Linked DNA regions of Homo sapiens: region 2 is linked to region 1. The links come from fine-mapping of genetic effects on gene expression. Tissue or cell type: fibroblasts. Region 1 holds a variant in brackets; the other region holds the start of a gene. All regions are shown on one strand. Distances are between the middles of the regions.

Region 1 (8,000 bases):
AAGACTTGGTCATCACAAAAGAAAAAACATGTCAGCATTTACGTTTGGTGTAAAATGTAAACTATTCTATGTAGATGGGGTATATAATTGAACCTTGATAAAGACAGTCATATGGTGATGTTTTCATACTGGGCTGTGTTTTTAGCTTTATGCTTTATTTCACAAATTCTCTTGAGTGCATTTGATATTATTGATAATCTGTAGGGTATTTTTTAAATCTGAAAGTTTTAATAAACTAAGTCATTACTTAAAATATAATTCATTCTTACATGGAAGTTTCTAGAGCCCCACCTTTTGTTCTTCAGCAAATTCCCCAGCTCTCGGTACAAAAACCAAGAGGAAAAATTGTATTCAGAGAAATCTGATGAAGAAGAAATTTTGCTAATACGTGTATAGGGACAGTATTGTTGAAGTTACTGTGTTTAACAGTAATCTGTTCTCACTTTTTGTGCAGCTGAGTTTGCTCTTCTAAAACCTACATTTTGCCAGTAATTACGCTGCAGATTTATTTTTATTTTCCCGTTAAAAATCAAAGATTGAAATGTCGAGATAACCAGAGCTACAGAACTGCATGTCTTCTCTTTCTCTGGCAGTTTGTATGCAGGTGTTTATGTTCTCTCCTTAGGCAAATGAAGAGCTTGAGGCCTTAGAAGAAGAAATGTTGCAGATGCAAGAATCTACTCGTCTTTTTGAAGTGGCTCTTCCAGAGTACAAACAAATGAAACAGTGTCGCAAAGAAATAAAATTGCTCAAGGGACTGTGGGATGTCATTATTTATGTTCGAGTAAGATGTGCTTTTTCAAAACATGCTTTTTATTTAGTAGTTCTTTTACATATGCAGTTTGTGGAGCCTATATTATTCTATTTGGGTTTTATAATGTCTTGAAATATGTGGAAATTAGATCCTCACCCCAGCCCCAAATTAGAGTTCATGTATCTCTGTTAGTGGATGATTCTTCTTTGAATACCAGTTGTTTTTATTTTTAGTTCAGGATGAAACTTTGTTTAATAAGCTGACTGCCTCAAATCCTTTGGGGAGATTGTAAAGAATATAAATAAAATAAAAATTAATATATAAATATATATTACATGTGTAGTCATCTGTGCATACCAACTCATACATATTCCTATGCTTATACTTACATGCCTGGGCATACACAAACAGACCCTTCCTAAAAATAATTTGTATGTGGTTAATTAAGTTAAAAACTTAAGTGAAAAAGTAAGTTCTAGGGAATGAGGCATATTGCAACAAGCACTATAATCTTTTATGTTAGTTGAAAGCCATATAGAAATATATTAACAAAATATAAAATATGGTCAAGAAATGGTTGATGAGAGTTTTGTTTATAATGGTTGAAAATTGTCATGTGAAAGCTTATTTAGTTACATGTAGAATTATAAAAGTCTGTTATTTAATAATCTACTTATCAATTTATTCAAAGTACACAGGATTAAGTGATAATGATGGTATGTGTATGGAATTTATCATCGCTACTAGAAATTAATATATCATAATGTTTTAGCCTTTAGCTTGACGTGTTCTGACAACTTTTTTGTTTTGGTGATAGGGAAGTTTTGACAAGTGCAGTTAATATTTTAAAAATTGACTTTCCACTGGATGATAGAGTTACAGTGTATCATCAGTTTATATATTTTGCTGCAGAGACTTGCTTTCACCAAATGTTGTTGACACTTTTATCTGCTTTTGCGTTTTCAGAGAAGCATTGATAATTGGACTAAAACCCAGTGGAGACAGATTCATGTGGAACAGATGGATGTAGAACTCAGAAGGTTTGCCAAGGCGAGTTCCATAACTGTCTATTACAACAATTTATCTTTCTCAGCACCACCTCCTTCCATCTTCCCTAATCTAGTATCTGGTGTATTGGGCTGCATGTACTTATTTACTTCTAACAGAGTGATAGCAGACAGTGTTTTTTTCACCCTTAGCCAGTTGCACTTCTAATCAAGCCTGTCTTTCTGTGAGTGAGTTGATAGAAGCATATTAGGGTTAATGAATTTATGAGAAGCTACTCTAATTATGAGCTTCCTACAGCTTCCTAGAACAGAGAGGAACATTATCAGGGCCAAGGGGTCAGGCTTCTGAAAGCTTTTGATTTCTTTGCTTAGCAACCATAAACATTTTGTATCTGAAAAGGTACCTTTTGGCTCTGGAATTTGGGGCAACTAATAGGAGCATGCCACCTCTGGATTTATGCGGAATACTATGATCTTTGTTCTTATTAATGACTCTGGTATCCCAAGGGGGCTCAACATATACAGAACTGAGCCTATTGTAATTTGGTACTTATTGGAATTTGATGTCTATTCTGCATAGCCGTATGCCCTCTGAAGACAGAGCATCTTTGGATAAAGGCAAAATGCATATCAGTGAAAGGCAGTTAAAAGTGACAGGACCATTTGCTTTTTTTCCACCCCAGGGCTTCCTTGCCTCAGCTTCTACCCACTCTCGCCTGTATTTTCCCCCATATTATGCCAGTCCCAAAGACCCAAACTAAAATGTCCCTTCATTCTTTCGGATGTCATGGGGTCACATTGTCCTTTATTTCGTGCTAAGTTCTAGTTGTTTTCTTATGGGTTTTCTCATTCACAATTGCTGATGTTTTTCCTTGGGCTGAGAGGACCAGCCAAGTCAAAGGACCTATTTGGCATTTTAAGATGATGAAATATTTAGGTTTCAAGAAACAGGCACTCAAAGGTAATCAACATTCCAAGGCTGTTGTTTAAATGAGTCATGTATTCCGAAGGAGGTCTTAGTAATCTGATAACAGTCTGTTTCCATTTACTTATGTTTATAGAAGAAACATTCTTCATTGCACGTGTCCTGTGAACTCTGTTACTTACCTGTGTTTCCTCATGGGACATTCAGTTAGATCTTGTGAATGAGAAAGCAGTGTATACAAGTGGCTTGTACGGAGTGGGCTTGTAATGTACAAATGAGTGGATCCCTTTTCGTTTCTCTGGTTTTGCTCCTTGGTCTAGGAGTTCAAATGCTTTCACTCTTTTCTAATCCAGGAGTTGGGAAATATATGTCAAAGGAGGCAAATTATTAATATATACTGTGTTATATCTTGGGAGCTAGGTTTTTTCCTCCACTTTTCTTTAGGAAATTTGGTCACTCAACAAGGAAGTCCGCGTCTGGGATGCTTACACGGGCCTGGAAGGCACAGTTAAGGACATGACAGCCTCCCTGAGGGCCATCACAGAGTTACAGAGCCCTGCCCTCAGGGACAGGCATTGGCACCAGCTGATGAAAGCTATTGGGGTCAGTATCCTTGGTCTCACTAATGAACCTTTTTATGACTGTGAAGTGTTACTTCTTGGTTTGCATCATCTGAGATGAAGTGTAATTTATGAAAAGACCCCCCTCAGCATAGCCTCTACTTGCTGTGTTATGCCTTTTTGCTGTCTAGAAAAAGTCGCCTGATCCGACCAACAATTTAGAAAAAGGCACCCTCCTCCAGGCTGTCCCCAGGACAGCAGAGCGGAGGCTGGCTTCCATCTCCATTTGTCATCTGGGCTGGTGTCCACGTTCAGTACACAGATTGCACAACTAATCAGGGTGGCCCTATTAC[T/G]CATCTCTCCTCATTCTTTCTCAAGGACAGACCTAGCTCCCTGGCTCCCAGCAACTCTGGAGTGAGGCCAAAGTTGACACAGAGATAGTCTGGCAAACTCATCTAGCTTTCTCAGGACTTTCCAGATTTTAGCACTGAAAGTATCACATCCCTGAAATCCACTTGCTAGAAACCCCTCAGTCCGGAGCAAATCAGGGCATTTGGTCCTCTTATGCAGAGGCGTGGATGGTGCTAAGGAATGTTAGAGGGTAGGGAGGGGCAGAGGGTGGCAGCTTCCAAGAAGCAGATTCTGGATATTCTTAGCAAAAGCCGGAAAGAAAATGGCTTTCCTGCAACCCATATGGCTGGCTCAACTCTTCACTTACAGGAGACATGAGTGAGTTTGGGTATGTCGAAGAGCTGAGGATGTCTCAAGGACCCAATATAGGGGAGGGAAGGAGAGTCAATGTGAGAGAAGGGGAGTCATTGTCACAAGACAATGTGGAAATGAGAATTATTTTTCACATGGTAAATATGAATAATGACACTGTAAGACTATTTTTTTTGCCAATGAACTGAGATTAAATTAGTGATAAAACTAGGTTAAATCACAGAAGCAGCTGGGAATTATGTTCAGTGAATAGGGTTCTTTAGGAAGAAAAGACAAATGAGCCACTACCTGATTCCTGGGATTTCAACCAAATTATAATAAATGAACAATGAGATTCTCTTTAAAAATGGGTTTTGTGGGCAAAGGAGATAAGAAACGTGCCGACAAGGGAAAGATGTGAAACAAAGAAAATAGTGTAGCACGGATGTGACTAAACTGTGGCCCTTGCTTCCGGCAGGTGACGCCTCAGGAATTGTGAGTTAAAAAGGAGTGTCTTAGATTCTCCACGTATTTCAAGACGAGAGATGTACTCAGCACCTGACTTGAGTATATTTTAGTTAAGATTCATTTCACCAGCCTTTAGGCAAAAGGAACCGTTCATATATGTGGAATATAAAGTCTAACTTTTTTTCCCCCAATCAGGTCAAGTTTTTAATAAATGAAGCCACAACTTTGGCAGATTTGTTAGCACTGCGGTTACACAGAGTGGAAGATGATGTCCGAAGGATTGTGGACAAGGCGGTGAAAGAGCTGGGGACTGAGAAGGTAGTGTCCTCGGGACTGGGTCATTTCTACTTGGCTAATTTTGGGTATTTGCATAGAAGCCAACTTAGAGAAAAGTCCTTTTGATGTCCTGGGAGCCTGGAGAGATGAGTCCCAGTTTGTTCCCTGCTGTTCATTAGGTGTGGGATGAGCAGGAACTAGAATCATTCTAAGCCACAGTAAAACAGGAGGATTGGTCTTGTTGATGATGATGATTATAGCAGAAAATACTTACATATCCTTTATTTTGTAGCCAACACCACTCTGAGTGCTTTATTTATATTAACCCATTTAATCTTCTGAGGTAAGTAATAGTATCTCTATTTTACACATGGGGAAACTGAGGTATAAAGAGATAATTAACTTACCCAGATTCACACAGAAGACTGAGATTCATTCACATTTGAGGCATTACCTGTTTCATGCTGGCTAATTTGTAAATAGTATCTACCAAACATTTAAGTCCCTTCCTGCTCTTGAATTGTGTTTTGGTTAGGGATGATAAACTCACATTCAGTAGAAGTTTGATGTTAGTGTGATGCTCATACCTTTGATGTGATAAAATTCATTCTTCAAACCCCATTAGCATGAATTACTTGGAGGAAAAAACTCAAGCCAATAATACTTGATATCAGTTTGCATTTTTGAAAGTTGAAAAAAATTAATTCCAGATAATAGTCTACATATTGATTATCAATTAAATTTTGTGCACATTAATTATATTGTTGATTACTAGGTTATTACTGAAATCAGTCAGACCTGGGCAACCATGAAGTTTTCTTACGAAGTTCACTATCGAACAGGCATTCCATTACTAAAGTCTGATGAACAACTTTTTGAAACTCTAGAGCACAACCAAGTAAGATGGATATTTTTATTGCATATATTTTTCATTTTATTTTTATTTGACAAATAATTGTATATATAGGGTACCATGTGATGTTTTGATGTATGTTTACAATGTGGAAAGATTAAATCAGGCTAACCGTCATCTCATACACTTAACATTTTTTTTGTGGTGAATCACTTAAAATCTCCTTTAGGAATTTTGAAACATACAATGCATTATTATTTATTGTAGTCACCAACTGTGCAATAGATCACTAAAGCTTATTCCTCCTGTCTAACTGAAAATTTGTACCCTTTGATCAACAGCTCCTCTTGCCCCCTCCCCCCGGCTCTGGTAACCATCATTCTACTCTCTGTTTCTATGAGTTCAACTTTTTTAGATTCCACGTGTAGATGGCATCGTACAATATTTGTCTTTTTGTTCCTGGCTTATTTTGCTTAGCACTGTCCTTTAGGGTCATCCATGTTGTTGCAAACCAGGATTTTATTCTTTTTTTTAAATTTTACTATTATACTTTAAGTTTTAGGGTACACGCGCACAATGTGCAGGTTAGTTACATATGTATACATGTGCCATGCTGGTGTGCTGCACCCATTAACTCGTCATTTAGCATTAGGTATATCTCCTAAAGCTATCCCTCCCCCCTCCCCCCACCCCACAACAGTCCCCAGAGTGTGATGTTCCCCTTCCTGTGTCCATGTGTTCTCATTGTTCAATTCCCACCTATGAGTGAGAATATGCGGTGTTTGGTTTTTTGTTCTTGTGATAGTTTACTGAGAATGATGATTTCCAATTTCATCCATGTCCCTACAAAGGACATGAACTCATCATTTTTTATGGCTGCATAGTATTCCATGGTGTATCTGTGCCACATTTGCTTAATCCAGTCTATCCTCGTTGGACATTTGGGTTGGTTCCAAGTCTTTGCTGTTGTGAATAGTGCCACAATAAACATACGTGTGCATGTGTCTTTATAGCAGCATGATTTATAATCCTTTGGGTGTATACCCAGTAATGGGATGGCTGGGTCAAATGGTATTTCTAGTTCTAGATCCCTGAGGAATCGCCACACTGACTTCCACAAGAGTTGAATACAAACTACCATCAGAGAATACTACAAACACCTCTATGCAAATAAACTAGAAAATCTAGAAGAAATGGATAAATTCCTCGACACATACACCCTCCCAAGACTAAACCAGGAAGAAGTTGACTCTCTGAATAGACCAATAACAGGCTCCGAAATTGTGGCAATAATCAATAGCTTACCAACCAAAAAGAGTCCAGGACCAGATGGATTCACAGCCGAATTCTACCAGAGGTACAAGGAGGAACTGGTACCATTCCTTCTGAAACTATTCCAATCAATAGAAAAAGAGGAAATCCTCCCTAACTCATTTTATGAGGCCAGCATCATCCTGATACCAAAGCCGGGCAGAGACACAACCAAAAAAGAGAATTTTAGACCAATATCCTTGATGAACATTGATGCAAAAATCCTCAGTAAAATACTGGCAAACTGAATCCAGCAGCACATCAAAAAGCTTATCCACCAGGATCAAGTGGGCTTCATCCCTGGGATGCAAGGCTGGTTCAATACACACAAATCAATAAATGTAATCCAGCATATAAACAGAACCAAAGACAAAAACCACATGATTATCTCAATAGATGCAGAAAAGGCCTTTGACAAAATTCAACAACCTTCATGCTAAAACTCAATAAATTAGGTATTGATGGGACGTATCTCAAAATAATAAGAGCTATCTATGACAAACCCACAGCCAATATCATACTGAATGGGCGAAAACTGGAAGCATTCCCTTTGAAAACTGGCACGAGACAGGGATGCCCTCTCTCACCACTCCTATTCAACATAGTGTTGGAAGTTCTGACCAGGGCATTTTGGCAGGAGAAGGAAATAAAGGGTATTCAATTAGGAAAAGAGGAAGTCAAATTGTCCCTGTTTGCAGATGACATGATTGTATATCTAGAAAACCCCATTGTCTCAGCCCAAAATCTCCTTAAGCTGATAAGCAACTTCAGCAAAGTCTCAGGATACAAAATCAACGTACAAAAATCACAAGCATTCTTATACACCAATAACAGACAAACAGAGAGCCAAATCCTGAGTGAACTCCCATTCACAATTGCTTCAAAGAGAATAAAATACCTAGGAATCCAACTTACAAGGGATGTGAAGGACCTCTTCAAGGAGAACTACAAACCACTGCTCAATGAAATAAAAGAGGATACAAAGAAATGGAAGAACGTTCCATGCTCATGGGTAAGAAGAATCAATATTGTGAAAATGGCCATACTGCCCAAAGTAATTTATAGATTCAATGCCATCCCCATCAAGCTACCAATGACTTTCTTCACAGAATTGGAAAAAACTACTTTAAAGTTCATATGGCAC
Region 2 (8,243 bases), 76 kb before region 1:
TTCAGCTCCTGATTGGTTTGAGCTCTCCAAGACCCATAGGCTGGCCTGGCTGAGACACACAAACAGCCAAGGTGGTAGCCTGTCCTGCACTCTGGGCAATCCATCCCAGGGTTAAATTAGAACTCTGTCGGCTATAGAACATGGGTGGGGGTGCCAGGAGGCCCCAGTTGGTTGCATCCTTTTTTCTTAGCTGTATATTACTCCATTGTTTGGATGTTAGATAGTTTATTGAACCCATCTCCTATGGCAGGATATTTGGCTTATTTCCAGTGTTTTGCTCTTACCATTAGTGCTATAATGACTAACCTTGTGCGTAGATTTCTAGAATAAAGATGCTGGGTCAAAGGACAAATGCGTAGGATTTTTTCTAGAAATCAGTGAATTCTATGGGGTTATATCATTTTGAATTTCCAGAAGTGATGTATGAAAGTGCCTGTTTCCTCAGCCATGCCAATAATATGATGTCATTCTTAAAACCAGTAAGTGAAAAAATAGTCTTGTACTCTTGTTTGAATTTGTATTTTTCTTTTGTGAGGGAAGTTGAGCATCTTGCTATATGTTTAAGGGACATTTGCATAATTGAACACGGTTCAGCATTTCATGTTGATATACTAGTCAGCAAGTTGGAAAGACAAGAGGAAATGGAGAACTGGGAAATTCTAAGAATATGATACAAGCATTTTATACCTCATTTACTTTCACTTCACATTAGCTACAAAGAAAATTTCCTAGTTTCCCTTTTAGCTAATGTGAAGTGAAAAGTAAATGAGGTATACAGTTTGGGTGGACATGAGTCCCATTAAAACTTGGAACAGGGGTAAATGTCGTATTTCCAAGAGAAGGAAAAGGTGAATGGACACTGGGGACAGTTAGCAGTTTCTGCTACATCATCTTCTTTTAAAAAAATCTAGCTATTATCACAGCCCTATGTGATTTTTGTCTCATATTTCTTCTTTGTCCTCATCTCTTGCTATTCTCCCTCTTACTGGCATTCTTGCTGTTTCTCCAAAAATCAAGCATCCTCTCTTGTGGGTCTACTTGCCCTTCCCTCTGCCTGAAGTGTTCTTCCAGAACGCATGGCTCACTCTCAGAATTCTGCTCAAAAGTAAGCCCTTCCTTAAACACCAATGGTAATTAACATGCTCTCCATACCCAACCTTTTACCCTCCGTTGCTTTTCTTCTTAGAATTGATCATCTGTGTCAATCGAGGAAAATGACAAGTCTCAATCATTTTAGGAGATTTGTTTGCCAAAGTTAAGGACACTCTGGGAGACAAGTCTATGCCTTTCTCCGAAGATAAATTTGAGGGCTCCAAATTTAAAGGGGAAAGGGCGGGATATTGAGAAGCACACAGGTTTTCACATAAACAAAAGGGGGCAGAGGAAGAATGTGAGGAATCGCATTTTACATAAGATAACAAAATGGGGTAGGGGAACAATCAGATATGCATTTGTGTCTGGTGGGTGATTGCACCTGGAAAGACAAGCTATCAATTTGCATTGCTATGGTGAAGTTTTAACAGCTCACCCATAATTTCCCTGTGGGCAAAATATGGGGGAGGCATGTAGCCTTTCATCTTGTAGCCATCTTATTTAGGAACGAAAAGGGAGAGGCAGATTTGCATGACCCAGTTCCCAGCTTGACTTTTCCCATTGGCTAAACGAGTTTAGAGTCCCAAAATTTAATTTCCTGTCACATCTGACATAATAAACATATTATATCTTTGCTTGCCTAGTTTCTCATGTTTCCCCCTCCACAACTAATAATAAATGTGCCAGGCGTTGGCCTGTTTGTGCTTTTAACATATTTAAGCTGAATTATTTCTCCCAACAACTCTATGATGTGGTGTATCATTTACTATTACCATACTATCACTACATAACAAACCTCACCACAACTATGTAGCTTAAAACCAATAATCATTCATTATTTTCATGCATCTGTGGGCTGACTGAGAGTAGATTGATCAAGACTAGCCTTCGCTGGACTTGCCTCTGAGCTACAAAAGTCGGGTCCAGGCTGGTTCCCTGCATTAGCAAGCTAACTAGGGATGTTCTTCTCAAGACAGTGGCAGAGGCACAAGAAGGCAAGCCTCACCATGCAAAGACATTCCAAGCATCTGTTTGCTACTACACTTGATCTTAGCCAAAAGAAGCGATGCCTCTGTTTGTTATGTCTGCCAATATCCTATGGACCAAAGCAAGTCACATGGCCAGCCACAACTTTAATAGCACAAAAAGGTATAAGCATACTCTTTTCATGAAGGTGGGGTTGGGGGAGAGATATTTGCTAAAAAATAGTCTCATCTACCATTTTTTTTTTCCTATTTCTGGTGAGGAAACTCAGGCACCTAGAAAATAGAAATGGAATGCAAATTCAGTTGGTATAGCTCCACTCTATTCAGTAGAAATCTAGCCTGTATCTCCAATATGAGGGTAGAAACTTAATCTGTTTTGTTTTCTGTTATATTTCCCAGCACCTAGAACAGTGCTTGGCACTTAGTAGGCATTCAGTAAAGATTTGTTAGACAAATGAATGAACTCAGCACAGCACATGGCACATAATTGGTACTTGATCAATGTTAGCTATTATTATTGAGAAAAAATACATAAAACTTGGGAACAAGGTAAAGCCATGTTCATTCACTGTCACATTGAAACACTGCTTCACCGGCCAATGAAAGGATTATTAATTATTTAGGGAAAAGTATCTTTTTTGGACTCATTAACTACTACTGATCGAAGTCTCAAACTCTGAAGTTACGTTTTTATTTACAGATTTTTGTTCAATACAGATGTAATTTATTTTGGAAAAACAAATTATTTTTTAAAAAACAAAGGATTATTTTGCCCTGTATGACATTAGTGAGTGTTGTTTTGAACCTAGCAAGCTGACTCATCCTGTCTTCCTCCAATGCTGCTAAATTTCTTTCTCGAACTGTCCTTGGAACTTACATCATTTTGTTGCTTTCCTCATTTATGAGTTAAATCAATCTTTGACATATCTTCATCTTATATTTCGAGTTACATAGTTAACTTTTTGGAAATTGCACTTTAAAGTTAGCATCATTTAAAAAATTTTCCTGCTAGATTTGAAAGTGGTTATTCACTTTCAATTTAATTCAACTATTATTTACAGAATTCCCGGTTTTCTAGGTTACAGGGATGTGAAGCTGGAATATAAGAGGGGAGAGAAGGAACTGGTGATTGCCAGCCTTGTATACCAGCAACTGGGAGCCCCAAAGATTATTATGGACAATATAAAGCAGCCTTGACAGGTTAGAAGTCATTATCAAAGTTTTCCAAGGCCCTGTGTTATTTCAAGATTCTGATCACATAACTGGAAACTTGTCGATGGTTTTCAGGGGCAGTTAATATCCTGCAAAGAAAAAAATTGTTGAAGCCTCATCTTCTGGAAATGTCTGTCAACATTCAGGTATTAAATGGATTATTGTGGGCAACAGTCCTTCAGTAGCCCCCATGGAAGGGGTGGGGATTGAAGACTTTAGTTTGAAATAAACAATTAACAAAGGAGACTTAAAAGTTTAGTTGAGGACTCCTCCTCAAAATTCTGGTTGCTTTAATAATTAGAATTTCCATAAGAGTCTCAACGAAAGCCACTAATGGACCGCAGTGAAATCCTATTTCAGTATCATGAAACTGTTTTTAATCTGAAGCTTTTTCTCTTTGACCTTTTTACTCTTGAATTAAATGATAAATCTATAGATTTTCGGAACATTTTGGAGATCACGAAAGGGCACTGTGCGTTCTCTTACTGGGTGTACTGAAGTTCCAGTAAGTTTCAGGTTGAGGATGGCAATCAGGAGGACTTCGAATACTTAGATCTTGGATTCCCACAACTAGGAAAGTTGAATTGCAGGACTGGCTCTCTTCTGGTAATATTTGGACACCTTGGGAAAGGTGAATAACAGCCTTCAACTTGGGCCCCGAAACTTCTCTGTTACTTATTTTTGTAACTTAGTTCCTTGCCCATAAAACAAAGACTGACCAGTCAGAGACTTGGCTTTCTACGGATTATGTCAACTAGTCAAGGTAAGAGATTAGCACGGACCTTGGCACAAGAGAGCATTGCTTCATCCAGAGCACTTAACCAATGCTGGGATCTCCACCAAGTGTCCAGTAGGCGAAGGAGCCGGAGGGCAGTGGAGCGAGCGCACTGGGGGCTCAGACCCACCCCGGACACGCGGCTTCTCGGCCGTGTTCGGGACCTAGAGCCCGAGGGCCTCTCCCCTCGGCCTTGGCCTTGGCGTATACTGGGCGGTGGCGCGGTGCGCTCACTCCGCCCCCAGCGGGCTGGGGCGGGGACACCGTCCCCCGGGAAACGGGACGCGCTGCTTGTCCCAGGCCTTCGCTTCGGCCTGCGAGGCTACAGCTGTGCGCAGTGGCGCGGCTGCTAAGTAGCAGCAGGTGGGAGACTAGGGTCTGCGCTCGCGGCGACCGCGGAGGAGGGTGGGCGCCTGCGGAGGTGTCCTCGCTCACTTCGGGGGGCCCAGAGTCTCGGGTGAGGAGCCAGCCGGCCTCGCGTTCCCTCGGACGGTTGCCCAATGGCAGCCCAGGTGGCAGCCCGGGAGGCGCGAGACTTCAGAGAAGCCCCGACCCTTCGCCTAACCTCGGGGGCCGGCCTGGAGGCAGTGGGCGCTGTGGAGCTCGAGGAGGAGGAGGAGAACGAGGAGGAGGCGGCGGCCAGGAGAGCGCGGAGTTTCGCCCAAGACGCGCGGGTGCGCTTCCTCGGCGGCCGCCTGGCGATGATGCTGGGGTTCACGGAGGAGAAATGGAGCCAGTATTTGGAAAGCGAGGACAACCGGCAGGTTCTTGGGGAGTTTCTGGAAAGCACCAGCCCGGCTTGCCTTGTGTTTAGCTTCGCCGCCTCGGGGCGCCTTGCGGCTTCCCAGGAGGTAAGAGGCGACGGGCAAGGGGACCTGCCCATCCAACAAAACTACCCAGGGGAGACAGCCCAGTCGCTCCCCTTTGGATTCCCGCGGGGCGCTCACTCGGGCACTTTAACAAACTTGGCTTGAAGTCCCCATCCTGAGGCCCGCAGGACTCCTCCCCACGTGCACCCACTCTGCAGTTCAGCAGCTGCAGGTTAGTTTCCTAAGTCAGCAGTTTGTATCTGACCGAGAATCCCGCGTTGAGCCTGTTCGACCAGGATAACCCAAGAACACCAGCGCTTTCTTTAGCTGCTTGGGTGTTAGGCGCCAGGTGGGCTTTCTGTGCCAAAAAACTTGCGTTTCAGTTGCTCTTGGGTCACTCTGGAGTCACATCCTTTAAAAAATGGGGTGTTTGGCAGAGCGCATGTAACTCGTCACGTATTTTGATTACGTGCCAACAACACTTCACCCCAGGCAAAAACATTAAGTCCTTAAAAAGGAAGGCCCCTGCAATCTCCGCACACATGGGTGTTTACTGAACATTTAGAGGGAACAGTTCCCTCCTTTCTTCTTTTTCTTCCTTTTCTTTTTGAATTTCGATGATTTGTCCACTAAAAGGTTAACGTATCACCTAACGTACAGCACTTGTATTTAGTATTTTTCAAGTATGATGAGTTTGGAGCAAGATTCACAATTTTTAAGTAGCGCAATGCTCAGTTTAACATGTTATGTCGTTTTATCACTAGGTGTGGTCATTGTAATAGTTGGGAAATAGGATCTCAGAGAAGAAAGAGTAATAGGAAGGCTGCCTTATGGTATTGTGAATTTTGAATTCTTTTGTTTTAGGACTCTCCTAATTGTAACTTTAAAAAAAATAAGTTTGTCAGTAGACAAGGCGATAGAACACAACTCTAGTATTACCTAAGTTAAATAGTTATTATAATGTTCAATGGAATGACTCAGTAGTTGTGGAAATGTTAGCATGTTTTGGTTATACGGTTCTATTCTTTGATAGAAATACAAATTAACCTCTTGGGCTTGTCTTTATCTCAGTTTGGCTTATTTCCAAACCAGAGAAGAGTATAAAAAATAACCCTTTAGGATTGAAACATTTCTACATGCCTACGTGCTCCTTATTTGTTTTTAGTTATAAGATTTTTTTTTTGGTGTATAATGAACTGGTATAATTGGCATGCCTTTAAAAGGTGATATTTCCACACCAGTAATGCTGTGAAATTAGCATTATAAAAGAACAAAGAAAACTGTATACTCGCTGCATACTAGGGAAGAGCCGTAGAAGGACCTTGTTTATAGGGCAGGCAAGATGCCAGGTTTTGTTTCTTCTGCTAGCAATACAGCTACAAGTTGGATATAGTAAATCCTGCTTGTTAACAAGAAAACTACTTGAACTAATTATCTTGCTCTTGTTTTAGATTCCAAGAGATGCAAACCATAAACTTGTTTTTATTTCCAAGAAGATTACTGAAAGCATTGGAGTAAATGACTTTTCTCAAGTGGTTTTATTTGGAGAGTTACCTGCGTTGTCTCTTGGACATGTATCTGCTTTCCTTGATGAGGTACTGGTCTGTCTTTAATATTTAAAGCTTTCACTTATCTCCATGACATTTGAAATTATTTAGGACAACTCCGATAATTAAAAAAAGAAGAGCTAGGAGGGGAAGGGAAGGGGATGGGGGTGGTTAAAAAAAAAAAAAAAAAAAAAAGCTTGTAGAAGCCAGGAGTCTCTAGCCAGGTGGATGGAGTCATAACATCTAGACTGTTCCTGAAAGGAGCTCATGCTTACTGATGCTAATATTCAACAGGTGGCAATTGCAGGGATCATTCTCTCCCTTTCTTCCTTCCAACACAATAGAAGCAAATAAAAAGCAACTTGAATAGGTTCTTGCACCTTAGCAGCAGGTTTTAAGCTTCACATTCAGAGTAGAGACAAATTTACACTTTGAAAATGAGTATTATCAGTTCCTTTTTATACTTGTTAGAAACTAACAGTTAAAGACTAAGATTCACTCATGGCAGATAATGGGAAAAGGTGATGAAAGTGTTAGAAATGGTTCTTAAACTTTCTTTTTCTCCTCTTAAAATAGAGAAATAGTCTTCAACCAATGTTACTGACACTTTAATGTGCATAAGAACTGCCTGGGGATTTTGTGAAAGAGGTTGGTTCATTCAGTCTAGAGTGGAGCCCGAGGTTCTGCATTTCTAACCTGTTGCTGATGCTCTTTGTTTGTGGACTAGCTTTGAAGAACAACTGCCAAATAACCAGGTTCCATGGAACTAGAACCTGGCTCTCAAACTTCGCTGAACATTAGGATCACCTGGGGGAACTTGTAACACAATGCCCCAGGTCACACCCATACCAGTTAATTTAGAACGTCCTGAATGGGAGCCAAGTAGCAGCAGTTGTTCAAGATTCCCAGGTGATTCTAATGTACAGTGAGCTTTGGGAGCCACTGGGTTAGATATCTGTCTACAAGGCCAATTTCTAAATCAGACCTCTGTAATCAGTGTAGTCCTGCCAAGGCCGATATTTAAGGTAGGAAAAATGCTGACATATTTATTGCTAGTTATTTACCAGTCTCTCATGATCACACCTCTTCTACTTTTTGAGTCTCTTCTTCTGTCTTTTTGAAGGGAGGTATTTTCCTGCTGGACTAACCAAAGTCTCTCACCCCTAACTCCTGTACCCTGCCTGGGTTTCCCTTCGCTCCTGTTGAATTTAATTGGCTTTAGCTGATTTCAGGGAGGTGCTAGGAAGACAATCTTTTAACTTCAGTACCAGGAACAATTTTTGGTATGCAGCAGGTGCTCAGATTTTAATTGAACTGAATCTGATGACTTTGGTTCAATATGAGAATCTAGACCACTATCAACTGGAACTTGGAGGGGCAGGGCTACACTGTGAAATTCTTGCTCTACTATCTGTGTCTGGCAACAGAAGATACAAGCCTTTTTCAAATTTCTCTACTCTTTCTCTCAGTACCAGGATCTGCTTAATATTCTGAAAAAGGTATGCCTGCTCCTCAACATTATGATGTGTTTCCATACCAGAGTGTATTATATATTTATACTTAGCCAAAGTATATAAAATGTCATATGGTTATTTCTTTATGTATCACGTTGGCCCACATTTCAAAAGAAACAATAATTGTGAATGCTTACCAAGACATAAAGAAAATGTCATTTGGTTCTTCTCAGTCAATATCTGGGCCCCATCCTTGGAAATTCCAATTTAAAAAATCTAGAGGGGCCTGGGCTTCTGTATTTTAAAAGTGTTTCCTCAGTAATTGTATTGAATGGTTTAAGAACTGTCATAAAGAGAAACCCCACAGT

The links. PIP is the estimated chance that this variant, and not a neighbour inherited with it, causes the effect.
Region 2: it holds the start of DNAH11, and the variant in region 1 is fine-mapped to the expression of DNAH11 in fibroblasts (GTEx, PIP 0.99).

Annotation. Positions count from the first base shown.
Region 1 is chr7:21,614,489-21,622,488 of GRCh38, forward strand. DNAH11 (dynein axonemal heavy chain 11) reads left to right here. Exons shown (of 82, transcript NM_001277115.2): 21 at 626-784; 22 at 1,721-1,804; 23 at 3,131-3,289; 24 at 4,612-4,734; 25 at 5,468-5,590. Among named protein-coding and RNA genes, the nearest start is that of DNAH11, 75 kb to the left of the region's middle. The variant T/G (reference allele first, on the strand shown) is at 3,600.
Region 2 is chr7:21,538,681-21,546,923 of GRCh38, forward strand. DNAH11 (dynein axonemal heavy chain 11) reads left to right here and starts at 4,359. Exons shown (of 82, transcript NM_001277115.2): 1 at 4,359-4,916; 2 at 6,326-6,469. The coding sequence starts at 4,566. RefSeq lists enhancers at 3,681-4,182, 6,515-7,481 and a silencer at 4,231-4,280.